5 linked regions of the Homo sapiens genome follow. The gene in region 5 interacts genetically with the main gene of each other region. Each region holds a gene or a part of one and is shown on either strand. Other genes may lie near its edges.

Region 1 (6,493 bases), on a different chromosome or scaffold from region 5:
CCTCTCCACAGAGGGGATGTGGTCCCTGGTCATGACATAACCTAGCAGCAGTAGGAAAAACTCCCTTCTATGAAGGGGAAGCAGACTGGGCCATAAGGAAACAGCAGGACTGGCTCAAGTGCCCAAGGTTTGTTTAGGGCCTGGGAATTGGCCATGTGTTAATTTATTGAGTGGAGTAGGTGGCTTTTTTTCCCTCCCTCTTCCCCCAACAAGAATAAAGTTTATTAAATTATCTGGTTTTGGTGTAGCAGGAGTCAATTCCGTGCACATCGTATGGGGCACAGTGTGGTCAAGCTCCACAGCTGTGAGCTCGTCACTTCATGTGAAGGAGGGAAGGAAAGAAAGACGTTCCAGGGAATTTGCAGGTACTCATGTGGCACAAAGAACCAGAGGCTGACTGCATTAATGCTGTTAGTTTAATGTGGACAGAGACATCCCACGGCGTGACTGTTAGTTAGGATGAGTCAGCTTGGGGGAGTTTGTGCTTCCTGCTTGGTGTGGCCAGCCACATGCCAAGGTCCCCTGCCTTCTAGCCCAGAATGACGGGACTGGGCAGAACACCCCCAACTTTTAGCTGCCACTTGGCTCATTACAGCAGTACCAGTATGGGGGTGGGAGGGGTGAGGCTGTGGAGTGAAGGCGGCGTATAGGGCAGAGACTAAGAGGTCCTGTGAGATTCTTAGAGGAGCCATCCTGCTCCAAGGGGCCTGAGCTGAGTGTGGTCTGTGAGCATCTGCTGCTCCTCTCAGAGAGGGAGATCTCACTCTCTGCCAGTCTGTCTAGCCCCAAAGAGCCTGGTTTTCTCAGTATCAGTGTAGCTCCTGGGGACTTCATAGGCATAAAGTCAGTCCATTTCCATGAAGATAAGGGGATTAGGAAAGAAGGTTCTACTAGTTGGCATAGCAAACACGAGGCCAACACCATGAGAACAGTAGGGGAGGGGGGGGTGAGGGCTCAGCCCCCAGCCCCTGACTGGCAGTGATGGCCCATGCTCAGGAAGTGGGATCCTCTGACCTCCCCTGAATCCCTCACCTTCCCAAGTTTCAGAGCTGGGCCGAGCTGTTGAGTGAAATGACCGAAGGCAGAGTTTGTATGTTCTCCCCGTGTCGCCCCATCCATGGAGGAGTTGAAGTTTGTGGGAGGGGAGAGTGGTACTCCCTGTCGTCAACTCCTCAGCAGAACTGATAGTTGTTGGGCTGCAGCAAGGGCTGGGCGATATCCCCTTGCTCGCAGCAGGTCAGGTGCTCACTAGAGCTCTCCTCCTCCAGCTCACTGCTGCTGCTGCCGCTGCCACCGCTTCTGCTGCTGCTCGGCAGATTGGTATAGTCCTGAGGGTGGGAGGGACCAGAAACTGTCAGTCCAGATCCATCAGGCCCAGCCCAACGTGCTTTACCGGCCACCCACCCCAAGCCTCACCCCACTCACCCGCTCTCTCCTGTCCTCTTGGGCCTGCTCCTGAAGGAAGGAGCAGATCTGCTGGAAGGTGGGTCTGTGGGTGGGCTCCAAGGCCCAGCAGGCCTGCATGATGCTGTATCTGGGAGATAGGACAGAGGATGCCCATGGGCAGCTCCCTAGGGTCCAGGGGCCATTAACACACACCCCTAGAGAGACCTACCCAGCAGAGGTCCCCAAACCCAGTCAAAGTAAGTTTAGTATAAAACCTATGCCAAGTCCTTGGCATGCTTTACCATTTAATCCTCACAGTAACCCTTGCAGAAGGGTACTCTCATCACCCTCATTCTGACAGATGAGGCCATTTTGGTATCCTCAGGGTAACTGTAATAACGATCTCTTAAAAGTCTGTTTAGGGACAGGTGCAGTGGCTCATTCCTGTAATCCCAACACTTTGGGAGGTTGATGCAGGAGGATTGCATAAGGCCAGGAGTTCCAGACCAGCCTGGACAACATAGTGAGATCCCATCTCTACTAAAAAATTTTTTAAAAATAGCTGGGCTTGGTGGTGCACACCTGTAGTCCCAGCTGTTTGGGAGGCTGAGGCCAAAGGATTGCTTGAGCCCTGAAGATTGAGGCTGCAGTGAGCTATGATTGCACACATCACTGCGCTCCAGCCCGGGCTACAGAGCAAGATGCTGTCTCAAAAAAAAAAAAAAAAAAAAAGGAAAAGTGGTCGGTTAGGACCAGCCCTAGTGAACAGCTGCTTCTCTGAGAACATCCCCCATAGCTTGAACTCAAAAGGGGCTTGTTGTGTCCACTATGGGAGAGATAAAGTCTGACCCTGGAACATTTTGGACAGGGAAAGATCAGGGCCACACGGCCTTCCATCCCTTTCCAGCGAAAGCCTGGGGTGTCCTTTTCCCTCCCTGGGATCCCTTCGCTTACATATTCTTTGGGGCAAATGCAGGCTGGGCCATTTGGTATCCATCCTTCACCAGTTTATAGAACTTGCTGTTCACCAGGATGCCAGGGTAGGGATTCAGCCCTGCAAAGGCCAAGATCAGGTAAGAGGCCATGCCCATTGTCTTCTCCCCATTCCCGCACACCCACACACATCTTAGACTGGGTTTAAAGGGTCCCACTTGACAACACTGCAACAGCAGCTACTCTTACCCGGTGCTTCCTGTGTGCCAGCCAGTGTGTGGCAGGCTTAGGCTTTAGGAAGGTGTGAGCCTCTATCCAGGCCTTATCACACCAAACATTCTTGCACAGGCTTTGGAATCAGACCAAAGCTTCAGCTGTGTATCGTTAAAGTGTGGACAGTCAGGTGGTTATGAGGGTATAGGAGCAGCGTATTTAAGAACTGAGTACAAGTCCTTGTGCCTAGTCCTCGGGAAATAGCAGTTCTTTCTACTAGAGCCTAGTAGTAGAGAGCTGCATCTTCAAGGGTCTGTAGATTTCAGACAAAGGAGGGAAACAGTGACAAAGGAGGGTAACAGGTAACAGCAACTGAGCAGAGACAAACGAGGGAAGAGCCAGAAAGGAGCGCCTGTCAGGGGCAGAGGGTCTGCCGAGTCCCGCAGGAGCCACGATGCTGGGTTTCGAGAGCCCTTGCCCATTCCTGCACTCTCACCAACCCTCGCTGTGTCCTGGGCACCAAACAGCTTTGTCCACCAGTGGGGCAACCAGAGGAGCCAGCCCCAGGCTCTGCCTGGAGTGGGCCCAGTGGCTCACCAAGTGAGAAGATCTCCCAGAGGAGGATGCCATAGGACCAGACGTCGCTCTGAACCGTGTAGACACAGTCAAAGATGCTCTCTGGGGCCATCCACTTCACAGGCAGGCGGGCCTGGGATGACAGTCCCCAGTTATTTTGGGCCCCGACTCTTCACCCCCTCCCCAGCCTGGCCCAAGCCCTCCCAGCACTTACATTGCCCTTGACAATGTAGTTGGAGTCATTCATGATGTCCCTAGCCAGCCCGAAGTCCCCAATCTTGGCCACATGACCATTGGTCAACAGCACGTTACGCGCTGCCACGTCCCGGTGGATGCACTGAGGGAAAGCACTGCAGGGTTAGTCTTGGGCCTTCTCCTACCTGAGCCTGAGGTGAGGAGGATGGCAGGGAGGGCCCCACATGGCTTTGGAGTCCCTGCTGGAGTGAACAACAGTTTTGGTCCTTTACCACAAACCCTTGTCTATACCTTCTACCAGGGCCCAGGATCTGAGAATGTGTATCGTGATCTGATCATTTAATGCTTAGAAACCCCCATTACCCTGAGCAGCCATGGCCCTTCTCACCCTTTGTCCTCTGACTGGTCTGCTCAGGCCCCAGAAGCGAAGGGCTTCCGTGCAGAGAGCAGTCTCCAAACCCTACCGTTACTTCTGATCATAGCAGCTGCTATCTGCCAGGCCCTTCCCTAAACTCTGCACACATTGAACCCTTTTTCTTTTCAACAATCGTTATGCCCATTTTTATAGGTGTAGAAACTGAGGCACAGAATTTAAATAGTTGCTTAAAGTCACGGAGCAGGTGGCAGAGCCAACAATCAAACCACTGACTCCCGAATCTGTTCTAAGGAAGATGGCAAGAGCTCCCATTCCCTGGCACTTCTTCCTAGGCCGAGCGCACTTTATACGTTATCTAATATCCCCAAAATTCTGAGGAAGCTTCCGTTATCATCCCCACCAGACCGCGTGCTTTATGAGCAGAGACAACTGTTGTCTCTCATACACTATTTAGTAAAAACGAATGAAGAAAGCCTGGTACCCTTCCTCATCTTCACGCTGGGGACACAGGTGCCCAGCCCCAGAGCTCCAGCCCTGGGCACAGCTTTCTCCCACTCATCCTTGCAGCTGCTGCCCAAATGACTCTCTCATACTCTGTCTCCTCCCCTACCCCCTCACAGGCTCCCGTTTCCTCCTCCCCATCGTCACTCATCCAGCCTCCCCGGAGCACAGACCTGGGTGGCTATGAGCCAGGGCCAGGTTCCTACTCACATTCTTGGAAGCGAGGAAGGCCATGCCCTGGGCTACTTGGCTGGAGAAGTGAAGCAGGTCCCGGAGCTCCAGGGGCCGTCCATCCTCCTTGTCCAGGTCTAGGGTGGGAAGAGGCGTCAGGGCAGCCCTGCCACACTCCCCACCCCTCACCCCAGCAGCCCCTTCTCCTTTTCCCTTGTTATCAAGCAAATGGGGCCTGGCCCTGGGACCTCCTCACCTTGCTCAGAGAAGGAGTCATTTGAAGAAGTGGAGACAGGCCTCATCTCCACATAGGTGTCCACACCCTGGCTGGAGAAGCCACTGTCCCTACATAGGAGAGAGGGTTGGGGGGCAGAGGTCACTCATCATCACTGCACTGCTCAGCTCAGGCCTTGACCACCCACCACCCCATGGTCAACTGGAACCTCCCTTTCTGATAAGAAACCCTCCTGCCACACTCCATCTGAGTGAGCATTGGTCTCTGCTCGGCTGTCCCCGGTGAGGGAGCTTACAACCCATTCTGGTTTTGGGCAGCTCTGCCTGTGAGAAAGTTCTTCACTGTTCCTAATGCCAATCTACCCCTGAGATTTTCCTCCTAGCCCCTGCTCTACCCTCAAGGGCCACAGAGAAGTTGGAGTCCTCTTCCCCATAACAGCCCTACTAGAATTGGGGCATATTCTAGGGCCCCTTGTGCCCTCTCTTCTCTGGACAGTGCCTCACACCCCTGGCTTCACATTAAAATCACTTCGGGAGCTTTTAGGATCAGGCTAATTACTAATACTTCAGAAACTCTAGGGACAAAACAGTCATTCACAGATTTAAATCTCCCCAGGTGATCACAAAGTACAGCCTAAGCTGAGGCCCACTGGTCTAGAGCAGTGCTGCTTACGCTGCAACTCATGTGCAGATAAATCACCCCGGGAATCTCTGCAATGCAGATTTTGAATCAGCAGGCCTGGGTGGATGGGCCTGAGGTGGTGCACTTCCAACAGTCCTCAAGAGATGCCTATGAGAGCACACTTGGGGTAGAGAATTTGAGAAGCACTACTGTAGACTGAAGCACTACTGCTCCTAACGTTCCAGCCAGATAGGATTTCTCTCTCCCTCCTGTCCCCTCTGCGCTAGAGATGTGTACCTTGACAATGTCCATATTCTAGTGTTCCCAGAAGGAGAAACCGAAAAAACCTTCCGCTCCCTTGTAGAAACTATGCTTCCGTTAACAGCCTGGAATCCTTTGACAGAGTTGGTTTACAGGCCATTTGCCCTCGAAATTACCCACTCTGGGAATACTTTCCCCATCTGCGTATTTGAAGATGGAAGCTAATACTTTCCTTTGGTGCTCATTTTGATCTGATCTTCAGAGGCCTAGTGTGTGCCACCCTCATAGAAGTGTCAGGGAATCAGAAGAGGAAGTGATGCTGCCAGGCCCCCATTTTTAAGGCCCTGGGTGAAGAGATGGCCTCCTTCTCTTTTGCCTCCCCAGGCGTGGCAGCTGACAGTATCTAGGATGAGGGCGCAGTGTACACCCTTCTTGTTCTGATCCTGTCCTGACCCCACAAGCCCCTGAGACAGAGACCTCCAGGACAGCAGTGTGGCTTGGGTGACTCCTGGACTGGAAGTCAAGAGAGCAGGATTCTAGTCCAGGCTCCACCTCTAACCCTGACTCATGTGTGACATGAATCTCCCCACTTCCTCTCTTTGGTTCCCCATGTGGCTCTGTCTGTTGGATGGCTCTGTTCTGGATGGCTTCCAGGAATCACAGCAACAGGACAACAGAGCCATCTCTCTTTTTTTTTGAGACGGAGTTTCATTCTTGTTGCCCAGGCTGGAGTGCAATGGTGTGATCTCAGCTCACAGCAACCTCTGCCTCCTGGGTTCAAGCAATTCTCCCGCCTCAGCCTCCCGAGTAGCTGGGATTATAGGCATGCGCCACCACGCCCGGCTAATTTTGTATATTTAATAGAGACGGGGTTTCACCTTGTTGGTAAGGCTGGTCTCGAACTCCCATCCTCAGGTGATCTGCCCGCCTCAGCCTCCCAAAGTGCTGGGATTACAGGCATGAGCCACTGCACCCGGCCACATCTGCCCATCTCTTACTAGGGCTCCAGGCACAGATCTTGGTTG
Region 2 (6,493 bases), on a different chromosome or scaffold from region 5:
GAAGAGGAAATGACAAAGACCTTAAGAAAAGTGGTGATATCATCTCAGGGTTCCTAACAAACATGCAACGGTCCTACGTTTTTATGATGGGAAGTTCCAAGACTCCTGAGAGAAAGATTTTATGGCCAAATCATCTAAAGGAAAGTTTTCCAACCTTGGCATGACTGACATCTTGGGCTGATTAATGTTGGGTGGTTCTTCGCTGTGGGAGGCTCTGCTGTGCACTGAAGAATGCTTCCCAGCATCCCTAACCTTCTATCCACTAGAGACCAGAGCCCCCTCCCTGGTGTGACAACCAAAAACATGTCAGACATTGCCAAATGCCCCTGAGGAGCAGATAAGGCAAAAGTGCCCTTGTTGGAAATGATTCCCCTAAACAGAAACAAGGGTAAAAAGAGAGGGATAGATCTAAGAAATGAAATTCTTATGATACACTCAAATTATCTGAGAGGAAGGCATTTAAAGAATTAAGCTTATGTAGTAGTAGAGTCTATTGATTTCAAACAAATTCTGGCATTAAAAAGTTTTGTTCTGAAACAAGTATAAAGCTGAATAAGTCATAGGAAACAAGAGTTTGCATAAACAGGACAACAGGTGGAGCAGGACTGTCATTACTGAAATGGAAAGGAGATGAGCCTTAGATGCCCGGCCTGAAGAGGACTGGAGGCCCTTCTCAGGCTGCAGCAGAGGCAGGGGGCAGCTCAAACTGAGCCTAGAGGTCTCCTGGGCTCAGGGAGCCAGACCTGGAGATCTGGGAGGCCTCGGCAGGCAGAATTTGTGGGGCAGACTACCAGAGACATGGAAAACGCACACACGCGGTGCTCACACGTGTGCAGGAGCAGCGGGTGGGGGAGACAGGAACAGGAGAGGGAGAGAGAATGTGAGGCAGAGCTCCTGAGGTAGCAAAAGGGTCCCAAGGGTCCCCCAAGTCCCCTGCTGAGCACTGATCTGCAGGTGCCTGAGGCTTGGGAGCCTGAACTAGAACCAGGGGAAGGCAGGAGCAACTGGGGCTCACATGGCTCAAGAGGCCTTGTAACATGCAGGGCGTTGGGTGCCTTCCTCAGAAAGGGCATGATGTAGTACTGGGGCTCAACGAGCCCCAAATTAAAAGCTACCCTGGATCCACCAGAACAATAAAAGCCTCAAGCAATCTTATCTATGTGTCACAACAAACCCAACACTCAACCCAATACCACAAAATCCAGCCCTCATCAGCATTAAAAAAAATAAAACTCTCACAATACCTGATGTTTTGTCAGAAATTATCAGGCTTTCAAAGAAACAGAAAAATGCAACCTATAGCAAGAAGGGGAAATCAATCACTAAAAGAGTACAGAAATGATAGAGGTAATGAAATTAGCAGGCAAGGATCTTAAAACAGCTACTTATTTGTTCAATTTTTTGAGACAGGGTCTTGCTCTGCCGCCCAGGCTGGAGTGCAGTGACATGATCACGGCTCACTGTAATTTGATCTCCTGGGCTCAGGTGATCCTCCCACCTCAGCCTCCTGAGTAGTCGAGACCACAGGCATGCAGCACCGGACCTGGCTAATTTTTTATTTATTTTTTGTAGAGACAAGGTAACATAGGGAGCTATGTTACCCAGGCTGGTCTCGAACTCTGGGCTCAAGCAATCCTCCCACCTTAGCCTCCCAAAGTGTTGAGATTACAGGTGTGAGCCAGCACGCCTGGCCAAAACATCTACTTTAAATATCATACATACATACATACATAGAAAAATGCCAAGGAAGGCATGAATGTAATGAGGACAGAAAGAGAAGATCCAAAGACCCAAATGGAATTTAGAGATAATTTTTTTTCATAATAGTTAACCAAATATCCATGCATTTACTTAATTCTTTCCTTCACTGCTGATTTTTGATCTGACCATTATCAGATACTGCTAAGGTGTCTGCATCGGGCTTTCTAGTCTAGTAATTGCTCTGTCACGTGCTGCTTCTCATACTGCTTTAATTATTAAAGCTTCACCATACATTTTAGCATATGACAAGGAAGTCTTTTCTCATCACTCTCCCTTTTCAACATTTCTTATGTATTGTTGCAGGTCTATTCCTCCAGATGATCCTTAGAACTGCGTATTTCAAGATAAGTTCTTTGAGGATTATAATTAGATATACAGAATTCTTGGAAAAATCAGCTTCTTTAAAATAATCATTTTTCCTTCTGGGGCTATGATATTTTTCTGGATTTATCTCAGTGACCTTGAGATTCTCAGTTAGGTTTTGTAGTTATTTTTATATATGTCTCTCATTTTTTCTTAGGTTTTCAAAATAATTATTTATCTCCAAATAATATTTTTGTACTTCTCATTCCAATAATGGTATATTTCCCTTGATTCACTCCCTGTTATATTTAGTTTTCTATTTATTTATCATGAATTCAATCTTAAACTCTCCTGAGTTTTTGCAACTTTTTTTTGACTCTATGCAAACTTGACAGTAGTTTTATCAAATTCCCCTTTTAATTGGCTCCAATCTGGACTGGTTGTTCTTCCTGAGGACTCCTTTCTCTCTGTCCTGTAGGGAGCCCTCTGCTTCCTGGATTTCATGTCATTTTTTTCTTGATGTTTCTAATCAGACCAATGCTTATATGATGTATCTAACCAGACCAATGCTGACAGAGGTGCTGACAGGGATCAACGAGGGCTGACTTGTGAGTAAATGGAGCTAGGTTAGTTGGGACCCATATGTTAAAAATAGTAAAATTGCTTCTACTTCACTATACACAGAGATCAAACCCGAGTGGACTATAGATATAAATGTGAAAGGTAAACATAAAGCTTCTAGAAGATAACAGAAGAATATCTTCATGAACTCAAGATAAAAGTGTTTCCTCAACAAAACACAAAAAGCACTAGACATAAATTTAAAATTAAGAATGCTTGCTCTTCAAAAGACACCATAAAAAGAAAATAACAACATGCAATAGAGTAGAAGAAATGCTCAACACATTTAACTAAGGACTAGTATGAAGAGTATTAAAGAGTATGTGAGAACTCCTCCAGATCAGTAGGAAAAAGATAAGCAACCCAAAAGAAAGGTGAGCAAAAAGCATGCACTAAAAACAAGGAACTCAAAAAGGCCAGTAAACACACAATAGTGCCCCATTTTGCTACAAACCAGCAAGGACAAAAGAAAACACAATGACATTCCATTACCCTGAGATTAATAAAAATGTACAAGTCTGGCAATAGTGAGTACTGGCAAGAATATGGAGCAAAATGAACTCATACACACTGCTGGTGGGAATATAAACAGGCGTGATGATTTCAGAGATCAACTTAGCATTATCTATGCAGTGGTGAAGATTTGCAGTTCCACTCCCAGGTAAATACCCTAGAGAAATGTTGCCCATGTGCCCCAACTGACACAGTATGGGATGTTTACAACAGTTTTGTTTGTAAAAACAGAACGATGAAACTAATTCATGGTCCACCAACATGAGAATGAATAGATAAGGATCTTACACAGTCAAATAGTGGGTAGTATATATAGCTACCTAAATAAACTACAGTCATAAGCAACGTCAGTGAATCCTACAAAGAATGTTCAGGATAAAAACAATACATACTATATGAATACACATTATATAAACCCAGTTGTCAAAAGTGGACAAAACTGGGCTGGGCGCAGTGGCTCACGCCTGTAATCCCAGCACTTTGGGAGGCTGAGGCGGGTGGATCACGAGGTCAGGAGATGGAGACCATCCTGGCTAACATGGTGAAACCCCGTCTCTACTAAAAATACAAAAAATTAGCCGGGCGTGGTGGCGGGCGCCTGTAGTCCCAGCTACTCGGGAGGCTGAGGCAGGAGAATGGCGTGAACCCGGGAGACGGAGCTTGCAGTGAGCCAAGATCGTGCCACTGCACTCCAGCCTGGGTGACAGAGTGAGACTCTGTCCAAAAAAAAAAAAGGACAAAACTAAAGTGTATTCATCATAGGAATATAAATCTGTGTGATAAGACTATGCAAGGGAATAAATCCAAAATTCACAGTAGTGATCACCTTACTAGCATGGGATGGAAAGGAGATGCAATCAGAGTAAGGAATACAATGGGGTCTCAAAGGTACTAGTGATTTAATTACCCATGTTGGGGGTGGGGATTCAGGAGTTCCCTTTATTAAGTCATCCATGTACATGGGGATTCAGGAGTGCCCTTTATTAAGTCATCCATGTACATTATACAGTCATCCGTCAGTATCTGTGGGTTCCATATCCATGGATCCAACCAATCCCAGATCAAAAATATTCAGGGAATAAAAAAGGATGGTTGCATCTGTACTGAACATGTACAGATTTTTCCCTTATCATTATTCCTCAAATAATACAGTGTAACAACTATTTATAAAACATTTATACTGTCTTAGGTATTACAAATAATGTAGAGATGATTTAAAGTATATGGGATGATATGCACAGGTTATATGCAAATACTACACTGTTTGACATCAGGGACTTGAGCACTTGTAGATTTTGGTATTTGTGGGGGTTCTGGAATCAATCCCCTATGGATACCAAGGGATGGCTGTATACTCTTGTACTTATATGTCATAATAAAATTTTTTTAAAAAACCACTTAAGAGTCTGCACATCCGTCCTTATACCTTTGCAGCTCAAGCACCACCCCTGCTTACCCTGGAGGGTTTACTTTCTAGAGTGAACCCAGAACACTTCTGCCATGGGAATGCAGGCATAGCAGACTTCACTGAGGTGAGGGAGGAAGTACAATTTATATACTGAATAATGAGACCCTCAATCCCCTTCTCTTTCTCAGCTCCAAATTGATTATCACATTCTTCCCGCATGCCCCGCCGAGACAGAGTCTTGCTCTGTTACCCAAGCTGGAGTGCAGTGGCACGATCTTTGCTCACTGCAACCTCCGCCTCCCAGGTTCAAGCAATTCTCCTGGCTCAGCCTCCTGAGTAGCTGGGATTACAGGCACCCCCCACCACACCCAGCTAATTTTTTTTTTTTTTTTTTTTTTTTTGTATTTTTAGTAGAGACGGGGTTTCACCATGTTGGCCAGGCTGGTTTCAAACTCCTGACCTCGTGATCCGCCTGCCTCGGCCTCCCAAAGTGCTGGAATTACAGGCATGAGTCACCATGCCCGGCCAATTATCATATTCTTTAACTGCCATGCCATTAAGCCTAAAGGATCAATTTTAAGGTATCACGTGCCAATCCTGGGTATGGCCAACAGGGCATCACTTTTGTCTTTCTCCAGTGGCATCGATGGCTGTTGCATCCCTGTGTTTACCACACTACCTCCTTGGCTAACATACATCATTCATGTTTTCCCAGAAGCCCACAGCAGTTACATCTGTCATCATCATCAAAGTTTTAACTTTTGGCTGAGCTGCTGCTGGGTTCTTGTGTGTGTAATAAGATATTAACTTAGAAAACACAGACTGTGGTAAAAATGCAGTATTATTATTTTGCTTTGGAATTTGAACATGTGATAAAATAGTCACAAAATGTTAAAACTTACCTCTGCCACTTCCTTTTGAAAAGTCAAAGTCATCTGAGTTCTGCCATAAACAAAAGGTCCATCTCTACAGGAAATATTTTCAAGCCACTTGATAATCAGTGGAGTTGAAACACTAAAAGGCAGATTTCCAATAATATGTACATTTGGAGGATCTGGTGGCAGAGGAAAAAACAACCTGAAATGATTCCATCAATATATTCTGAATACAATTTCAGTGACGAGTAAAATCAGACTGGATATTAATAGCATCAAAGAAAAATATATAAATAGACATGGCTAAATTTTTTTTTTCACTTATTATTCAAAAGCAATGTTTTCTCACAATCTGCTTTGGATTATTGAGGAAAAAATTATACTTAATTACTGCTCAGTTACTCAGAGAAAAGTCCTTGAATTTCTGGCCTAGGAAATACAGGAAAAAGAGTTGGCTTGAGGAAAAAGAGAATTCATTTTGGACATGATGAGGTTAAAGTGCCTATGGAACACCTAGATGAAGCTGTCAGAGGTCAGATGCCCAGGAAGGGGGTACAGGCAGCATATAAAGATGTGAATGTCTGCAATACGTAGGTGGTAAGTGAAACCATAGGAATGGAGTAATCTGGCAAATTTGCCCAAAAAGAAAAACCCCAGAAACAACAATCTGTACAAAGTGGGTAGAAAAACAACCACCAGCTAAGAATAGTTAGAAAAAGTTCACAAATGTAAAAGGAAAAACAGGAGGGGCTGGTATCAGGGAGAAAAAGAGCAAGAGAAATCCTCCGGAAGACTATGGATTACAGTTAAATGAATTTGGGAGAACTCAGTCAGATAAGGTTTGAAACAGGTAATGAGGAAGGCATTGTGGTTCCAGTGTGGCTGGGCTGGGGCAGAAACCTGAAGACTGCATGCTAAGAACAGGAGGGCCTGTCAGCTGGCAGAGACTGCAAGTGCGGCCCAACTGAAGGAGTCTGGTCATGGGGGAGGCCAGAGACATGGGGGCAGCCAG
Region 3 (6,493 bases), on a different chromosome or scaffold from region 5:
CAAGTATACTAAAAAGCATCATCATTATTATTATTACTATGAGATGGAGTCTCGCTCTGTCACCAGGCTGGAGTGCAGTGGCACAATCTCGGCTCACTGCAACCTCCGCCTCCTGGGTTCAAGCAATTCTCGTGCCTTAGCCTCCAGAGTAGCTGGGATTACAGGCACGTGCCACCATACCCAGCTAATTTTTGTATTTTTAGTAGAGATGGGGTTTCACCATGTTGGCCAAGATGGTCTCGATCTCCTGACCTCGTGATCCTCCCGCCTCATTCTCCCAAAGTGCTAGGATTACAGGCATGAGCCACCGCACCCGGCCATTATTATATTTTGTAGACACTCACGAGCAAAAATTGTTCATAATAACTATGTCTTGCTGGACAGGATAATAAAAATCATTCTCTTACTTTACAGAAAAAGAAACTAATCCACTTGGGAAACATAGGTAGACCCAGTCACTAAAAAAAACAAAAAAACAAAAAAAACCCCAAAAAACTAAGGCATGGTGGCTGGAGCCTGTAGTCCCAGCTACTCGGGAGGATGAGGTGGGAGGATCACTTGAGCCTGGCCACTCCAGCCTGGGCTGATAGAACCAGATCCTGTCTCAAAAAAAAAAAAAGAAAGAAAAAGAAACTAAAACATAAGGAAGGTAAATGATTTGACTAAGGCCATAGAGCTGATTAGTGGCATGGAACCGGAACTTACTGTACTCTGATACTTTGTCCAGATAACTTATTCTGACAGAGTGATTAGAAAGCAGTTCATACAATCAGATGGTTCCAGAAATGCCATGGATGACTTCATAAGCAGGTAATACCTACCCCTAGACATTTCTCAGAACGAAGTATTCTTTTTTTTTTCTTTAAGAGATGGGGTCTCGACCAGGCTTGGTGGCTCATGGCCAGGTGTGGTGGCTCACACCTGTAATCCCAGCACTTTGGGAGGCTGAGGTGGGTGGATCACTTGGTCAGGAGTTCGAGACCACCCTGGCCAACATGGTGAAACCCGGCCCCTACTAAAAATACAAAAATTAGCTGGGCATGGTGGCATATGCCTGTAATCCCAGCTACCCGGTAGGCTGAGGCAGGAGAATCACTTGAACCTGGGAGGCGGAGGTTGCATTGAGCCCAGATCGTGCCAATGTACTCCAGCAGCCTGGCTGACAGAGTGAAACTCCGACTCCCTCACACACACACACGCACACACAAAAAGAGATGGGGTCTTACTATGTTGCTCAAGCTGGTCTTGAACTCCTGGCCTCAAGTGATCTTCTCACCTCAGAGTGAAGTATTCTATTCCATGATCATGTTAGGATCTCAAGCAAGTACTTAAACAACTTTTTTTTTTCTTCTGGGACAGGGTCTTGCTCTATCGCCCAGACTGGAGTGCAGTGTCACAATCTTGGCTCACTGCAACCCCTGCCTTGCGGTTTCAAGCAATCCTACCACCTCAGCCTCCTGAGGAGCTGGACTCCAGGCAGGCGACAGCACACTCAGCTAATTTTTAAATTTTTTTTTGTAGAGACAAGGTCTCACTATATTGCCCAGGCTGATCAAACAAGTTATGGATAAGAGCCCACATCTTTTCTCTTTCTTCAGTAAAAATATTTAACTCTATCTGAAAGCCACAGTGCTATCTATATTCAAACATTTAGTACGTTTCTCTTCTGTCTAGGTTTTAATTTTTTTAAATGACACAAAGTAAAGGAAACTGTGCTACAAACCAAATTTAAACGATACAACATATTTCATGAGTGTCCGCATGTACCCAAATACTATCTACAAACTAATTTTCATTTTCCTTCATCCCATCATTTTAGCTACAAGTAAGTACTTCTCTACTAAACATGCTGAATTTAAACTAAAAATTTTCAATCTTGGCTGGGCATGGTGGCTTAAGCCTGTAATCCCAGCACTTTGGGAGGTTGAGGTGGGCAGACCACCTGAGGTCAGGAGTTCGAGACCAGCCTCGCCAAAATGGCAAAACCCTGTCTCTACTAAAAATACAAAAAAATTAGCTGGGCGTGGTGGCGCGTGCCTGTAGTCCCAGCTACTAAGGAGGCTGAGGCACGAGAATCGCTTGAACCTGGGCGGCAGAGGTTGCAGTGAGCTGAGATTGCGCCACTGCACTCCAGCCTGAGCGACAGAGCGAGACTCCGTCTCAATTAAAAAAAAAAATCAATCCTCTTTGGTTTAATGTAAGGTCAAAATTTAAGCATGGGCTTGTGTGATTCTATAGCTCATCTTCTCTTCTTTCACGATGTTACCTTTGATAATAACTAACATATGTAATGTGCTTTACAATTTAGAATGTTTTCATATATGGAATCTAATTTAACCTACATAATATATCATAGGCCTCATCTGAAATATGAGGAAACAGTAGTTCTGACTGTTACTCATCAAAGGTCATGCACCCAGTGATTATGACCAATATAGGTCTAAGGAAATTACTACAAGGATTACTGGCAGAAGGGACAGTCCAATGAGGTAGCAGAAAATGTTAGGCTTCCTTCCCTTTCAAGGCCTAAAAAATTAGCTAGAACCATAGAAAGGTTAAGTCACATGGTAATATATGCTGAGATGTCTGTGTTTTTTTTTTCTTTTCTTTATTTTTGAGATGGAGTCTCACTCTGTCATCCAGGCTGGAGTACAGTGGCATGATCTCAGCTCACTGCAACCTCCACCTCCCAGGCTCAAGTAATTTTCCTGCCTCAGCCTCCTAAGTAGCTGGGATTGCAGAGGCATGACCCAGCTTTTTTTTTTTTTTTTTTTTTTGTATTTTTTTAGTAGAGATGGGGTTTTGCTCTGTTGGTCAGGCTGGTCTTGAACTCCTGACCTCAAGTGATCCACCTGCCTCGGCCACCCAAAGTGCTGGGATTTCAGGTGTGAGCCACTGCGCCCAGCCAGATGTCTGTATTTCTGTATTTAAGGTGAATAAGATGATTACAGAAATAAGAATAAAATTTCAAACCATAATATTTTATAAGTACCAGGGAATGCACAATGGCAGCAGCCTTGTCCGGTTTAAGAAATCAGCTTTAATCCACTTGGTTCAACATCTGACCATCTGAGATCAAGCTATTCTCAGTCTGTACAGGTAAACGTGACTTTTCACTATGACCCATATCCTCGAAAATACATAAAACTATATCATAACAAGGTGAATCACATGTATCCATAACAAAGACTGGGTACCAAATCATACCAAAATCAAATCCCAAAATGTATCAAACAGCAGAGCTACAAATGTATCACAATTTAAAACAATAAAAGCCCATGCCAAGTCCTGCAAAATGGACATAAGTATGTTTTTATCATATAAAGGATAACCTATTATTAACCACATACAGAGCAGATAAAATATATAATCCATAAATTTGGCCTCAAATTCCTGTTTTTGTTTTTTGAGATAGGGTCTTGCTCTGTCCCCCAAGCTGGAATGGGGTGCCCTGATCTTGACTCACTGCAACCTCCACCTCCTGGGCTCAAGTGATCCTCCCACCTCAGCCTCCAGAGTAGCTGGGATTACAGGTGCACGCACAACCATGCCCAGTTAATTTTTCTATTTTTAGTAGAGATAGCATTTTACCATGTTGCCCAGGCTGGTCTTGAACTCCTGGACTCAAGGGATCTCCCTGACTTGGCCTCCCAAAGTGCTGGGATTAAAGGCATGAGCCACCATGCCTGGCCTGGGATTGTTATGTGGAATTTTTTTCCTTGACAAAATCTCAGATAATCAGGCTTAAAAACTATTATAATGGGTTTTGAATCGTTGGAATCAACTAGTCCTTAAGCCCAGCCACCCTGGGTTTTTTGTTTGTTTGTTTGCTTGTTTGTTTGTTTTGAGACAGGGCCTCACTCTTGTCACTCAGGCTAGAATGCAGTGGTGCCCTCATGGCTCACTGCCACCTTGACCTCCCGGGCTCAAGCGATCTTCACAGGCGCGTGCCATCACATCCAGCTAATTTTTTTATTATTGGTAGAGACGGGGTCTCACGATGTTGCCCAGGCTGGTCTCAAACAATCCTCCCACCTCAGCCTCCCAAAGTGCTGGGCTTACAGGTATGAGTCACCATGCCTGACCCTGTTACTTTACAGATGAAGAAAGTGCAGTATAAAATAATACACTGGATAAATAAAAAATGTATTTTGAAAGACTTCAGGCTGGGCGCAGTGGCTCATGCCTGTAATCCCAGGACTTTGGGAGGCCAAGGCAGGTGGATGACCTGAGGTCAGGAGTTCGAGACCAGCCTGGCCAACATGGTAAAACACTATCTCTACTAAAAATAGAAAAATTAACTGGGCATGGTTGTGCGTGCGCCTGTAATCCCAGCTACTTGGGAGGCTGAGGCAGGAGAATCACTTAAACCCAGGAGGCAGAGGTTGCAGTGAGCTGAGATTGCACCAATGCGCTCCAGCCTGGGCAACATGAGCAAAACTCCGTCTCAAAAAAAAAAAAAAAAAAAGGCCAGGTACGGGGGCTCACACCTGTAATCCCAATACTTTGGGAGGCCAAGGCGGGCGGATCACAAGGTCAGGAGTTCAAGACTAGCCTGGCCAACATGGGGAAACCATGCCTCCACTAAAAATACAAAAATTAGCCGGGCGTGGTAGCACATGTCTATAATCCTAGCTACTCAGGAGGCTCAGGCAGGAGAATCACTTGAACCCAGGAGGCGGAGATGCAGTGAGCTGAGATTGTGCCACTGCACTCCAGCCTGGGGGACAGAGTGAGACTCTGTCTAAAAAACCAAACCAAACCAAAAAAAAAAAAAAGACTGCTGGGCGCAGTGGCTCACACTTGTAATCCCAGCACTTTGGGAGGCTGAGGCGGGCTAATCACGAGGTCAGGAGATGGAGACCATGGTGAAACCCCGTCTCTACTAAAAATACAAAAACATTAGCCAGGCGTGGTGGCGGGCACCTGTAGTCCCAGCTACTTAGAGAGGCTGAGGTAGGAGAATGGCATGAACCCAGGAGGCGGAGGTTGCAGTGAGCTGAGATCGCACCACTGCACTCCAGCCTGGGCGACAGAGCGAGACTCCGTCTCAAAAAAAAAAACAGAAATGTTAACTATAGAATGTTGAAGGGGGGGGGGGGATTAAAACAACCTGTAGACAATATGATCGTCATTATTCTATTTCATAAATTTTCTATAATAAACACATATCTCTGGCCAGGCACGGTGGTTCATGCCTGGAATCCCAGCACATTGGGAGGCCGAGGCGGGCAGATCACATGAGGTCAGGAGCAAGACTCCGTCTCAGAAAAATAAATAAATACATAAAATAAAATAAGCCAGGTGTGGTAGCACACCTGTAGTCCCAGCTACTTGGGAGGCTGAGGCAGAAGAATCGCTTGAACCTGGGAGGCGGAGGTTCAGTGAGCCAAGATCTCACCACTGCACTCCAGCCTGGGTGACAGAGCTAGACTCTGTCTGAAAAATATATATATTATATATGTAATATATTTTACATATTATATTGTGTTATATATTATATATATTTTACATATATTGTATTATATATTATATATAATATATTATACATGTAATATATTATATACTATATTATATATATCATACATTATTATATACATATTATATATTTTGATATTATATATGATATATCATATATTATATATTAATCATATATAATATATTGTATATAATATAATTTATATCATATATATTATATATCATGTATAATATATATTATATAATATATATAGAAACACATATTTCTTTTATAACTTAAAATACTCAAAGGCCGGCACAGTGGCTCATGCCTGTAATCCTGGCACTTTGGGAGGCCAAGGCGGGCAGATCACATGAGGTCAGGAGTTCAAGACCAGCCTGGGCAACATGGTGAAATCCTGTCTCTACTTAAAATACAAAAAAGGCTGGGTGTGGTGGCTCACACCTGTAATCCCAGCACTTTGGGAGGCTGAGGTGGGTGGATCACGAGGTCAGGAGTTCGAGGCCAACCTGGTTAACATGGTGAAACCCCGTCTCTACTAAAAATACAAAAATTAGCCAGTTGTGGTGGCGTGCGCCTGTAATCCCAGCTACTCGGGAGGCTGAGGCAGGAGAATTGCCTGAACCCAGGAGGCGGAGTCTGCAGTGAACAGAGATCGCAGCCATTGCACTCCAGCTCTGGGCGACAGAGCAAGACTCTGTCTCCGAGGGGAAAAAAAGAGATACCAAAAAAAAAAAAATTAGCCAGGTGTGGTAGCACACGCCTGTAATCCCAGCTACTTGGGAGGCTGAGTCACCAGAATTACTTGAACCCAGGAGGTGGAGGTTGCAGTGAGCTGGGATCATGCACTGAACTCCAGCCTGGGTGACACAGCAAGACAATGTCTCAAAAACAAATAAATAAAATAAAATATTCAAAATACCCTTTTATTTTTTTTGAGTCGGAGTCTCGCTCTGTAGCTCAGGCTGGAGTGCAGTGGCGCAATCTCGGCTCACTGCAAGGTCCGCCTCCCGG
Region 4 (6,493 bases), on a different chromosome or scaffold from region 5:
CCTATCTGATCTTGCATGATAAACTTTTCCAATAGAGCCTTTAACATACTAATCATAGCTATTTTAAGTTTCCTATCTGATAAAGATGGAAACAGTAGACAAAGGGGACTCCAAAAGGGGGAACAGTGGGAGGGAGCAAGAGTTGAAAAACTACCTAGTGAGTACTATGTTCGCTATTTGGGTGATGGGTTCACTAGAAGCCCAAACCCCACCATTACACAATATACCCAGGTAACAAACCTGAACATATAACCCCTGAATCTATAATGTAAAAAAAGAAAGTAAAATAATCCAAATAAATAAACAAATTCCTTGTCTGATATTTCCAACATCTGTGTCATAACTTACTCTGGTCCTAATGATTGCTTTTCTCTTCAGACATTGTTTTTATTCCTTGCTTTGTTCGCCCTTTGTGCTACACCCTGGAGATAATATATCTCTTAAATCTCTTATAGATGTATTCCACTGTTATTTTTACTGATGCTTTTTAGCCTGGTAGTGGGGGAATGGGGACCTGGGACATTCTATGCTATGCTGATTAAGTCTCAGTCTTAGGCAGGCTTACCCTGGGTGTTGGAGGTATGACCTTCACAAGTGTTCCTGCCCCTCCTCCTATGTTCTAACCCAAGTGGGCTTAGCACATTTTCCTGCCCCTCCTGGGTTAGGACTTTTTTTTTTTTCAATTTTCTCCCCCAGCTGTAGTGAGTTTTCACCAGTGCCCTCAGTTTCTGTTGCCCTTTCTTCTGAGGACTAAGACTTTTTTCCCTTTGGGAAGATAAGGTAGATTGGTATGGGCAGAGTTTCAGTGATGTTGGCCATTCTGCTCTGCCAGCTGCAGTGAGTTTCTCCCAGTACTTTCAAGCTGGTTTTTGTTGCCTTTTCCCTGAATAGTAAGGCTTTTGCTCCATAGAGAATATAGGGAAACTAGTCTGTGCAGAATTTCAGCAACAGCTATTATACTGTTCTGCCCGAGCAGAACTACAGGATATCTTTCTCAGGATTCTTCTCAGTCTTTCTTGTCAGCACCTGGGGCAGTTCCTGGAGGAAAACTCTGCAAAGGGGTGCAAAATTGCCTATGTCTGCAGCCCCTACAGGCTTCACATTCTCACACTAGCCCATAACCAGCCTTTAGCAATTCATTATAATTTTTAGCTGAATCCTCTTATAAAGTTTGTATGTTGTTCAGTGGTATCTGCACCAGGTAAGCAAATGCCTGTTCCTGTGGCTCCCTTGAAGATGGTTGTTTCTACAGGTTTGTGGTACTGCAACCTCAGTTTTCTGATGAGTCTGAGAGAAGTTCTTAATTTTCACTTTCCCGGTTTTTTCGTTACTGTAATGGTGGGAGACATGTTCTTTACAACTCTACATTTCTGGCCTAATACCAGAAGAGCCTATGAATCTGAGGATAAGCTTTTGAGGGTCTGTTTATTTTTCAGCATCCATACCCCAGTTTACCAATTCCCCCACAATGGTGATCATGGTGGGTTTACCAGCTCGAGGCAAGACCTATATCTCCACAAAGCTCACACGATATCTCAACTGGATAGGAACACCAACTAAAGGTATGTCTCTGAAAGCCTTTGTTCAACAACCCCATAAAAGCTACTGGCTGAAAACCTTACTTAGGTAGAAGGCCAAAGTCCTCAATACCAGAAATGCCCCATCATTATTATTACCAGCATTAGGACTACTGCTACCACTATTACTACATTCTTATACATTTTATAACTTCTTGAGCACATACTTTGTGCCCAACACCACTCTAGGTGCTAAGCATAGGAAAACTAGTATTAAGATTAAATGTCTTCTCTCAAGAAGTTCCATGACCTCAAAACAATCCTGTGAGTAACATATTATTTTTATTGCCATTACTATTATTGCCATACCAATATTACTACTTTTATTAGCATTACCACTTCTTCACCATTTCATAGCTGAGGAAATTAAGGCCCAAGGAGTGAAGTGCCTTGTCTAAAGGCATATATCCAGTTACAGAACCAAGATATGAACCCAGGTCTATTTGATTCTAAGCCTGATATTCACTGTGCCAAGTCTAATGCATGATTCTACTGATTGGAAGAGAAAAGAATCCCATGTTAGCCCTATAGTCTCCTTTTCTTCATTCTTTTTGTCTCCTTCTTTTCCTTGTTAATCTCAACATCCTGTCTCTCTGCCCCACTTCACTCTATCTCTCCCCCTCTTCCTTCCTCTCCCCAATTTTTGTTTCTTTTTCCCATTTCTTCTTTCTGTTCATCTATGTTCTCTTTATCTAATTCACTGGTGAGGAGTTTCCCGATGGTTTACCATGTGCCCAAACTCCTGCTAGGCAGTGGGGATACAAAACTGGTTGAGACTCACACCCTGTCCTTGAGGAGTTCTGAGTCTAGCTGGGATGTATAAGAATACCTCATATCATCTAGGAATTCTAGAGCAGGAGCAGGGCGCTGTATGAAATCACAAAGGGATATGCCAACTGGAAGGCAAGGAAAGCTTCCTACATAGGATATGTTTGAGCTGAGTCTTGTGGGAGGAATAAGACATTGGCAGAAGGGAAGGAGAGAAGGAGCAGCTCTCATGGAGGACTGCAAGCTCTCAGGAAAATCTGCTGAGTGTAGAGGCACATGGGACACTGGCAGACGGGTTTCTGCCTTAAGGGCCCCATCATGGGTTCTGATTCCCCTGCTTTCTATCTTCTTCACTCAATTCTCTCAAAGGCCTCCAGAGTCATATTTCAAAGCACAAAGCTGAACATGCCTGTGGCCTCCAAAGGTCCCCTTGGCCTGCAGGTTTAAATCCAAGCTCCTTACCCTGTTGTTCAAGGCCCTCCACAATTGGCCCCTTCCAGCATCTCAGGCCTCAGCTATAGTGGATGACTCACCATCCTCCAAACATGCTCTTCCTTCTGCCAATGCCATACTCTTGCTCAAGCTGTTCCTCTACCTGGAATGCCTTTGTTCCTGACTCCCGCTGCCCATATCTGCCTGTAAAAGGTGCCTACCCTAAAAAGCCTGGTTCAAGTGGTGAAACCTTCTCAGATCATTCCAAGTACAATTAGTCTTTCCTTCTCTCTCACTGTCTTCCGTGGCTTAATATTGTCTTTGTCAGAGCATTGAACAAACTCTGTGGGAGCTCTCCATTTACTGGTTTACTCACTGTCTTACCTGTTGGACTGTGAGTGCCTTAAAGGCCCCATCATGAAGATCGGGCTAATCCCTGAGACCCAGAGCTCATATCCTGATTCACAGAGTAGGAGTCAAAAAGTATTTGTTAGATGAGTGAATGAAATATTAACTCTTTGGCTGCTTATCTTCTTTCTCCTCCTTTCCTTCCCTCCTCTCTAGTTTTTCATCATTGCAAGTGGGAAAGTATGGCCTAGAGATTTAGATTTAGAATCTTCCTCATAATATAGAAAAATAAAATAACTTTGGACTAGAAGTCAGGAGGTCCAGTCTATATCTGTCACCAGCTCACTCACTGTTTGACCCTTGGTGATTAATTTTACTCCCTAGATCTCCATTTCTTCATCTTTCCACTGGAGTAGGGCATTTTAAGGATTGGCATTTATGATAAAGTAGAATAATGGAAAGACCACCAGCTATGGAGCTAAATAGACCTGGGTTTGATCTCAGATATCCACAGATAGGAAATAACTTACACTGTGTAAGTTATTTCCTATCTCTGAACTTTCAGTTTCCTCATTTATAAAATGGTAATAGTGATCTCTACTTTGCAGGGCTGTTGTGAGGAATAAATAAACTGGTAGCCATAATTTGAAGTTTTAAAAGCACATTTTGTAGCTACAAATTATACCTTCTTCTACCTCTGAGGTCCCTCCCAGCAAGGACATTTTTTTGGCCACTGGGATCTTCCCAACCTCTTCACTGGCACTCCCTGCTTTCAGTGTTTAATTTAGGCCAGTATCGACGAGAGGCAGTGAGCTACAAGAACTATGAATTCTTTCTTCCAGACAACATGGAAGCCCTGCAAATCAGGAAGTAAGTACCCAATATTTTAGGAACCTGTGCTGTCTCATGGCTGAAAGGCCCTTGTTCAGATATTGGGGGAGTAGGGCAGAATAATCTGGACCAGAAAGGAGGCCCTCTAGACTCTCAAACAGTAGTTGGAACAGCCCTTCCATTTTCCTGCCCAAATCCTGTTTCTGGTCAAGAATAATCTGGACCAGAAAGGAGGCCCTCTAGACTCTCAAACAGTAGTTGGAACAGCCCTTCCATTTTCCTGCCCAAATCCTGTTTCTGGTCATAACCATCCACTTATCAAGAACCTTTAATGGTCTTCTACTTCTGACAGGAGAGAGTAGAAACTTCTCAGCTTAGCATTTGAGGCATGAATCTCAATACCTTGGCCTACTCTAGTTTCTGTAGTCTCATCAGTTCAACCTCAAGGTCTCTCTGCACTACAAGACTCTGAGTACTTGCAGAATAGAGCCTGTGCCTTATGCCTTCATTATAGAACCTGGCAGTGAGTAATCACTAAAGAGATTTTTGCTGAAAGCATAAATACATTGCCACTGTCATGCCTGTGTGTTACCCATGCCAGGAATGCCTTTTACTTCACAGACCACATGCTCTACTTGGGTCCATAAAACAGTTCAGCTTGAGTTCCATTAGCTCAAGGGTTGGAGCCCTTAATATTATGGCTTCTGTCATTGCTCAGCTTTTCCTGATTGTGTCACTTTATACCTGCCCGTAAACCGTGTAAGCTGTGCACACATAGCCACTTTCAACTGTTTGACCCCTCTGTGCTTAGCACGGTGCCTAAAGCGTAGGGCACCCTGTGTAGATGTTCAATACATGATAAGTTAGTCTAAGACATGAGAGATGGTACAGAAGATACTGCAGACAATGAGAGAGAAATCCATCCTGGGGGATAAGGGTTGCCTCTTTTTCTTTCCTGGTCTATTTCAGGCAGTGCGCCCTGGCAGCCCTGAAGGATGTTCACAACTATCTCAGCCATGAGGAAGGTCATGTTGCGGTAAAGAAATTTTTTATTTTTTCCTTGGGTAACTACTGGGAAGGGAATTAGCTAATATGTACTGAACATTTACCAATGTGTACAGAACATTATGTTCTGAGTATTTGCATATATTAATAATTTAATTTTATGCTCCCCCCTTGAGATAGGTGTTGTTATTATGCCCCAATTCAGAGCCCAGAAGAATGGTTCACAGAGACATTAAATAATTTCCCAAGGTGGTACAACGTATACCTGGCAGGGCCAGAAGTGGAATCCAGGTTGCATAGCTTCAGAATCCCCGCTCTTAACCACTATACACTACCAGTCTACCCCCAATAATTCAGCAGGACTATATTAGAATTTAAAACTGCAGTACAAACAGTTTTGAGTTATAGAGACTTACCTAAATATCTAGTCAATATTTTGGCTAGGATTTGCAAATTATAAAAGGGGAGGAGATTCTCAAATATGCAAATGGTCCAATCTCAGGTGCTGAGGTTAGGGAATTGTTTCCTGTTTTAGAGGACTTCTAAAGTGATAAGGAAGGAAGAAGCTTCAGCTAGGAATTGAGAGAACCAGTTCTAGCTCTGCTCTGTCAGCAACTCTCGGTGACTTTGGTCAAGCCAACTTCTTCTAGGCCTCAGTTACCTCACCTATAAAATGACCCTAATAAAAACCCACAATTTCCTCTTGCCTTATTACACTCACAGGGTAGCATACATTTCTGGACAGACCATAAGGGCCCAATATGTGCTTGTGAAATTGTCATAAGCCAATCATGAATCCTTCCTATCCTTCAAGACCTTGTTCAAGTTCTACCTCCATATGGAAGCCCTCCACTTAGCACAGGGATGGGCAAAGAGTAGGTGTTCTGTTAGCACCAGATTCAGAGTAAGCCAATCTCATTACCTGCCTCTAGGTTTTTGATGCCACCAACACTACCAGAGAACGACGGTCACTGATCCTGCAGTTTGCAAAAGAACATGGTTACAAGGTATGGTAACACTCCAACTCTTATCTAGAGCCTATTTCTCCAGCACAAACCCCAAAGAAAGGCAAACCAGGGGACTCAGAGCGGCCAAATCCGCAACCATAAGCTCAACATTTTAATTTGGTTCTCTAACTTTCCAGGATATAGTCAGAAGCAGCAAAGCAGAACAAGAAAGGAGGGGTGCCACATTAGGCAATGGAAGTTGACTGCAGACAGGCTGGCTATGGGGAAAGAGTGGAGAGAGTCACTACAAAAAACTTATATAAGACCTAAACCCAGTAAAGATATAAAACAACAGTCTGGGGTCATTCAGTTTAGAGCCAATTTGCCTCATGAAACTCAGAAGCCTGGAAGTACCACTGTATGAGAGCATTATGTTGTCAGAGATGCCCCTGGAGATGACTTAGAGCCATTGAAAAGGAGTAAAGCTATGTTCAGCTCCTACCAAACATAATTTCCTGCTGGAAATCTCTTTTCTGTTTCTTTTATAGGTGTTTTTCATTGAGTCCATTTGTAATGACCCTGGCA
Region 5 (6,493 bases):
ATTGGATCACTGACTTCTGGCATCTTAATTCTTCCCCTGGTAAAATGATGAATGTCGTCATGAGTGTGCACATGAATGGATAAGGCAAACAAAGATGGTAGTCCTTGAATTAACTCCTACTGGGGGGACCTACTGTTCATGGGGGGACCTACTGTTCAAGGGCAAGAACTGTGCTTTAGTCACCTCTTTCTCCACGTCTGCCCCCAGTGCCAGCAGGAGTTTCATAAAATGTTGGATAAATGTTCGTTGGCCTTTGTGCTCCAAAAGCCTGATAACTGGCCCCTATGGAGCACTTTTTACCCAGCAAACTTCACAAATCCTACCCAAGTAATAGGAGGGTTCCCCACACCCAAGTTTAAATCATCTCATGACAGGGTCAAGGGTGGAGGGGCTGGAGAGAAAGGAAGAGCAACAGGTAACTGGGTAACTGATTCTGTTTCGTCACTAAGGGTCAGAACTTCTGCTTTTATTTATTTCTGCCTTCTGTTTTTTCTTCCTGGCCTTATTCCCTTGCTAGAACTTTACTCCAGTTCTTTAAGAATTTGCTTCCCCTGAAGTAATGCAAACAAACACGAAACAGAATATTCATAACCCTTCTTTTATGTACATATGTGGGATGGGGTTTTTAAATATTGTTTGCTGAATGTTCGCATGACTGATAATACACATAAACCAAATATAATCAGTAGAGCAGAAGAAACCAGAAATCAGATTCTTGCCAAGGAGTTCGTAAACTTCTTTCAGCAAAGAAGTTAAACAAACCTTTAACGGAACCATTAGCACGTGGCAAAAAGAAACCCACAAAAACTAGAGTAGAACTTTTCTTTGTGCTGCCCATCCTCTAGAAATTACCAAGGAGTGTTAAGCTGCCTGAAGGAAGAGATGGGAAAAAGAGAACAATTAAGAAATCTGGATCATACACAAATTAGAAAATCATCTGGAACTGCTGAAATGACAACTACAATGGATTTATACAAACAGGATGGAAAGCAACACATTGGTCAGACACTTTAATTAGAAACTGCAGATTTATAACTCTTAGGAAAACCACAGAAATCTGAGAGAGGACCTGAGATTCAGGGGTTGGTGGGAACTCAGGAACTTAATAACTGTCCTTAAGAAAGTGAGTGGCAGATAACCTTCTCAGCTTATGAGCAAGTCGTCCAAGGAGGTACAAGACCCCATTCTTTTACTTAGTGCAGAATCAGAAGAAAACTATCCACTCAATTCATGCCTTACTCCTTACAATGAATTAGGCTTATGGCTTATTCTTCAGAAATTTTTAGGAATATGGGAAAATAGCTGTTAAGAGTTCTTTGGGAGCTAGGAAAACAGTAAAATCCTTGATCTAAGCTGTTTCTAGTTTTTCATTTGAAAGTTTTTACATAAAATTATTTTTATTATACTAATGTTTGTTATGTATTTAATTTACCAATCTTGCCCCAAACATTTTCCACCTGTAATTTCTTTACTAGCATCTCTTGTTTTACATTTGTTCAATAAAGATTAAATTAATAGCAAAATCAAATGAATAATTATATACTAGCTAAGCCAAAATCCAAATCTGAGTTCATAAAAGATACATAGAAAAGTATTGTTTTCTAAAGTCTTTAATATTCATGAAGATTTCTGTTTATTACAGAAAAGGTATTCAGCTTATTGCCTGTCCCTGCCTTTTGCTTTTCTGCATGAATTAAGTCATTTTCCTCTGTGACAATGAAATGAGTTCTATCATCTGGGGGTGGAAAAGAGAGAAGGAATGATGGGAGTTTCTGTTATAATTGAGCAAGAATCTGATTGAAAGGGAAATTTTCATAATTATATAAAAGTATAAGAATTTAAGCCTTTAAAAGAGATTAAGATTTAAATGATAGGGAAAGGATGGCTTTTATAAGTGGGTCCTATTATTTTTGTCAGCTTCTGACTTTAGAAGAAAGATGACTTCTGCCTCTTTATAGATCACGCTCTGAAGCTGTGGCTGAGCCTAGAGGGTGACAGAGTAAAAGGAGCACCTCAATAGGAATCCGGAGCCCCAGTTCTGGTCCTAGCTTTGTCACTAGCTGTGAGGCCTTGGGCAAATTCTTTTGCCTTCTGGGATCAGTTTGCTAACTGTAAATCAAAGGTGAGACAAAAGAAGGTTTCTGTGTGGAAAAGCATGAGCTCAGGAATCAAACACACATTTGATTTTGAATCCTGGCTCTGCCATGTCTTGGCAAATTACCTAAACCTTTTTCTGAGCCTCAGTTTTCTTACTCCAAAAATGAGGATAATAATACCTACCCGCTGGGTTGTTTCAGGATTAAATGAGATAATCAATTGAAAGACAGTGCCTGGCACATGGTTAAATGCTCATTAAATGCAAATTATTTTTTAAATGATAAATATGGTGATTTCAAGACATTCCATTTCAAAAAACTTATGTGAGTGGATTTCAAGTGAATCTGATACCAGAGTGAGATCGATTATAAATGCTTCAAAATCCATGAGCATTCCGTCATAGTCTCAGGTCCTGATAGACACACCACGTTCTGATCTTTGTGTATCTTTTATTTATGTACCACTTCAGTTTGTAAAATGCATTTTGTCACACATTTTCTCATTTGATTTTCAAAACAATTCTGTGAGATAAACAATGCAAGGAGCCCAGAATCCAAAACATTAAATGATGTGGCCTGGATCACACAGGTTTCCTGGGGCAGAGCCAGCATTGCAGCCCAGGCTCTGGCTCACTCACTGAGTGCTCACTCTGCTTTGCCATTCCTTGATTCAAACCCTGATAGGGGGCTGCCAGGGGATCACACACAATGCCCCTTATGCTATCTCCCCAATTGCTAAAACAATTTATTTTGATCCATTTGATATTTTAAAAAACTGTATGCTTAAGAAGAATGAGATGTCACAAAATCAGTAAGCTACAACATCAAAACATTTGGAAGTCAATAAATGATTATCTAAACCAAAAGGGAAAAAAAAGCTAATTTTACTGTCCTCACTCAGAATTAAACTGCTCCTTAAGAGTTTGTTTTCAAAATCTATTAAGTTACATTAGTCTGATGATGTTGACACAAGGGCTTTTCACTTCCTAACAAGGTAGAAGTCAAGCTTTCATTGTAAAATTATGTATTACATTCAAACCTTCCCTTTTTTTCATTTCATTTTACTTGTTACACACTACATCTTTTTCAATAGCAATTTTTCTTTCTAACCATTGCCCAAAATCATCTTTCAGTTTAACACAAATAGCTCTCCTCCCCTTACTCATTTTTCATAACCACCAATCTCACAGAAAGAATGAATGTGTTGACCGAATCAGGAGATGGGGAAAAGGCAAGTCTAGAGAGGTGTGGTCTTGTGCAGCTGTACTTATTCAGCTGCTTGCCTTGGGCCTAATCTCTTTATTAAACATAGAGGGTTTGTATTATTTGACTATAACTACTACAAAGAGATGATCAGAATTTAAAACTCCAATCAGATTCAAACATTTCATGTAACAATCACATCTCCCAGCTGTCATTTTGACCAGTATCAAGAGGTAAGGGTTAACACGTTCCAGACTGATTCCCAGCAAGCTGGCCTCCCAGAAAAGGAACAGAGAGCACTCTGTGGAAACTGGCTGCAGCCAAGTATTATGCTTCCACCATTAATTCAGGTAGAGTGCCGAGCTGGTGTACCTGGTGCAGAAGCCAAGGGTCCACTAACTCATGTAGCTGCTACCTCAAGGTTAGACCCTACCCCAGTTCACAACAGTGAAAGGGCTGGTGTGCCCCAAACCATGATGCTAAGGCAGCAGAACAGAGTTGGAGGCTACGATTGCCAGGGAAGGGGCAGTTACTTCTCAGAACATGTAGCCAGCGAGGAGCCCAGGTGCCTCTCCTGGAGTCTCAGATATGACCCTGCCAGATCCCTGTGTGCTGCCCCACCATGCAATGGACCACAAAGGACCCATCATCTGGTAGAGCTCCTATTTTGATGAGCTTCCCCAGTAAATGTTGCTCTAGAACACCTGGTTTGCTGCTGTCTGTCATACACCTCGTGCGCAATATTACTATGTGTGCATCCACCACATTGGAAACTCTTGTAAACACTACCTTTGTATCACCTCATTTATGCCTCCCAATCCATTTACCCCTCCCAATAGTGCAGGTGGGCACTATTATGATCACTCTCCATCTCAGATAAGAGAATTGAAGCACAGAGAAATTCAACAATTTGGTTCAAGGTCACATATTTAATATCTTATTTGAACCAGGTAGTCTAACCCCAGGGTCCAAACCTTCAACCCCTCTTCTCTACCCTCTTAGAATCTCTCAGAATACTCACATCAGCTTCTGAAATTTTGGAGGCCTGTTCTTTTATTCGTTGATGCCACCATTTCTCAACATCCTTTCTTGTCTGCAATGTATACTCTTTTGTCCACTTTCCCGTGGCACTGTAGATGCTTCTGGTACATCCGGGAATTACTCTCCTTTCCCACTTGATGACATCTGGCCCACCATTTAGCTGTCTTTTCAGAAGAGAGGCATAAAAACCCAATCTCTGCCAAACAGAAGCCATTCTTCAGAAGGTGAGAAGGCCCTGAAAAAGAGGGCAGAAAGCACACTATGAGCTGCCTCAAACCCTCCCCAGAGCTTATCTTTCCATTTGGCACAGTCCAGTGTTCTGGCCCTGTGCTTTCCTCTTACTTTTAATAATTTCTTTCCCTGAAAAGAATACTTTAGCAATTCAATTGAGCTAAACACAAACTTTTTAATAGAAAATATAAAGGGTCAGTAACCCCTAACATCAAAGATGCAAAAATCCTGTAGGAAAAAATGGAGACCATCAGCTGGCCAGCTCCTGCGCAACCTCACAAGTTGCATGGAAGGCATGGAGTGCCCTCCCTCCCCTCCCCATGGGCCAGCCCAGGGACTCTCCAGCAGGCTTCACTTCTTATGTCTTCAAGCCTCAGAAGAGCTCAAGCACATGCTGAGTTGGCGTTAGGCTCAAATATCAGAAGGGGTCTAAATACAGGCCTCCCAGGAGGGCCAGAAATTCTGAACTACTATTAGTAATTTTTATACATATTATGAGTTAAATATACCCTGTAGGCTGAACCAGAAAATAACCATTATTTAGAAGACTGTTAATTCATTTAGTTTCTCCTTCATTTACCAAATATTTATTTATTTATTTACTTACTTTTTAGAGACAGGGTCCTGCTCTTTCACTCAGGCTGGAGTGCAGTGGCATAATCATACCTCAGTGTAACCTCTGACTCCTGGGCTCAAGCGATCTACCTGCCTTAGCCTACCAAAGTGCTGGGATTACAGGCGTGAGCCACCACCAAATATTTAATGACTACCACTAGGCCCACACGTTGTTCTAAGTACTGGGAATATAGCAGTAAACACAAACAGAGTCCCTTCTTTCTTTCTCTGTTTTTTTTTCTTTTTTGAGACAGAGTCTCGCTCTATTGCCCAGGCTGAAGTGCAATGGCATGATCTTGGCTCACTGCAACCTCCACCTCCTGGGTTCAAGCAATTCTCCTGCCTCAGCCTCCTGAGTAGCTGGGATTATAGGCATGCACCAACATGCCCGGCTAATTTTCGTATTTTTAGTGGAGATGGGGTTTCACCATGTTGGCCAGGTTGGTGTCGAACTGCTGACCTCATGATCCACCCACCTTGGCCTCCCAAAGTGCTAGGATTATAGGCGTGAGCCACCACACCTGGCCCAGAGTCCCTTCTTTCGTAGCACTTATTACATACTAGCAGGGAAGCAGATAAGAAACAAACAATAAGGGAGGCAGATGAGAAACAAAAATATATAACATGTGGTCACGGTGAGTGCTATTTTTTGAAATACAACTCATAGGTTGGGGCCTACCAGGATATCCAGTTGTGATTCAAAATCCAATTTTAATGTTTCGTTGGCTTCTTCCACAGGTAAATACTGGAAATGACCTCACTGAAGAAGTTTCATGTTTTATTGCTATTCAAAGGGTTGAGGTGAGATTTTTATCAAATATTTAAGATATAAATACTAGACTAAATAGCCTAAACTTTCTCCTTCTGGCATAACAGCATTCAAGAAGTGCTACAGTGAAAAAACAGATGACAACAGATCTTTTCAAAACCAGAGAGAAATAAAGAAACCCGGCACTCTAAGCTGATGTTCTTTGATTCTCTCAAAATTCCACTTCTATCAGGATTTGGCCTGTTTCACAAAGGTACTAGAACACAAATGTTGCCAGGAAGGTCAATATAGGCTTATAACAGTGAGTTTCAAACTCACATAAGACAGCAACATAATGTGGGCATCTTACAAGTTGGTCTGCCAAAGTCATTGACATTATCAGTTCTCACTACATTAAACACCTCTTGCTTCTTCAGGGATAGAATAAAGTGCAGACTTAAAAAAAAAAATCTCTCTTAGGCCACGGGCAATGGTTCACGTCTGTAACACCAGCATTCTGGGAGGCTGAGGCAGGCGGATCACCTGAGGTCAGGAGTTC

What was found.
Region 1: changes in LARS2 (region 5) and CSF1R together harm fitness less than expected from each alone (positive genetic interaction), as found in Homo sapiens cells (one large-scale study listed by BioGRID).
Region 2: changes in LARS2 (region 5) and TFB1M together harm fitness less than expected from each alone (positive genetic interaction), as found in Homo sapiens cells (one large-scale study listed by BioGRID).
Region 3: changes in LARS2 (region 5) and XIAP together harm fitness less than expected from each alone (positive genetic interaction), as found in Homo sapiens cells (one large-scale study listed by BioGRID).
Region 4: changes in LARS2 (region 5) and PFKFB1 together harm fitness less than expected from each alone (positive genetic interaction), as found in Homo sapiens cells (one large-scale study listed by BioGRID).

What each region holds. Positions count from the first base shown.
Region 1 is NC_000005.10:150,052,897-150,059,389, forward strand, and holds the end of CSF1R (macrophage colony-stimulating factor 1 receptor isoform a precursor), read right to left. Parts: intron 4,697-6,493; coding exon 4,608-4,696; intron 4,489-4,607; coding exon 4,391-4,488; intron 3,446-4,390; coding exon 3,323-3,445; intron 3,242-3,322; coding exon 3,130-3,241; intron 2,441-3,129; coding exon 2,341-2,440; intron 1,535-2,340; coding exon 1,426-1,534; intron 1,329-1,425; coding exon 1,173-1,328; 3' UTR 399-1,172; downstream 1-398. UniProt on the Homo sapiens protein: Tyrosine-protein kinase that acts as a cell-surface receptor for CSF1 and IL34 and plays an essential role in the regulation of survival, proliferation and differentiation of hematopoietic precursor cells, especially mononuclear phagocytes, such as macrophages and monocytes.
Region 2 is NC_000006.12:155,291,445-155,297,937, forward strand, and holds part of TFB1M (dimethyladenosine transferase 1, mitochondrial), read right to left. Parts: intron 5,661-6,493; coding exon 5,509-5,660; intron 1-5,508. UniProt on the Homo sapiens protein: Mitochondrial methyltransferase which uses S-adenosyl methionine to dimethylate two highly conserved adjacent adenosine residues (A1583 and A1584) within the loop of helix 45 at the 3-prime end of 12S rRNA, thereby regulating the assembly or stability of the small subunit of the mitochondrial ribosome.
Region 3 is NC_000023.11:123,865,647-123,872,139, reverse strand, and holds part of XIAP (E3 ubiquitin-protein ligase XIAP), read right to left. Parts: intron 1-6,493.
Region 4 is NC_000023.11:54,958,326-54,964,818, reverse strand, and holds part of PFKFB1 (6-phosphofructo-2-kinase/fructose-2,6-bisphosphatase 1), read left to right. Parts: intron 1-1,436; coding exon 1,437-1,562; intron 1,563-3,838; coding exon of another isoform or gene 3,839-3,901; coding exon 3,902-3,995; intron 3,996-4,925; coding exon 4,926-4,992; intron 4,993-5,893; coding exon 5,894-5,968; intron 5,969-6,456; coding exon 6,457-6,493. UniProt on the Homo sapiens protein: Synthesis and degradation of fructose 2,6-bisphosphate.
Region 5 is NC_000003.12:45,392,515-45,399,007, reverse strand, and holds part of LARS2 (leucine--tRNA ligase, mitochondrial), read right to left. Parts: intron 4,576-6,493; 5' UTR 4,555-4,575; coding exon 4,321-4,554; intron 1-4,320.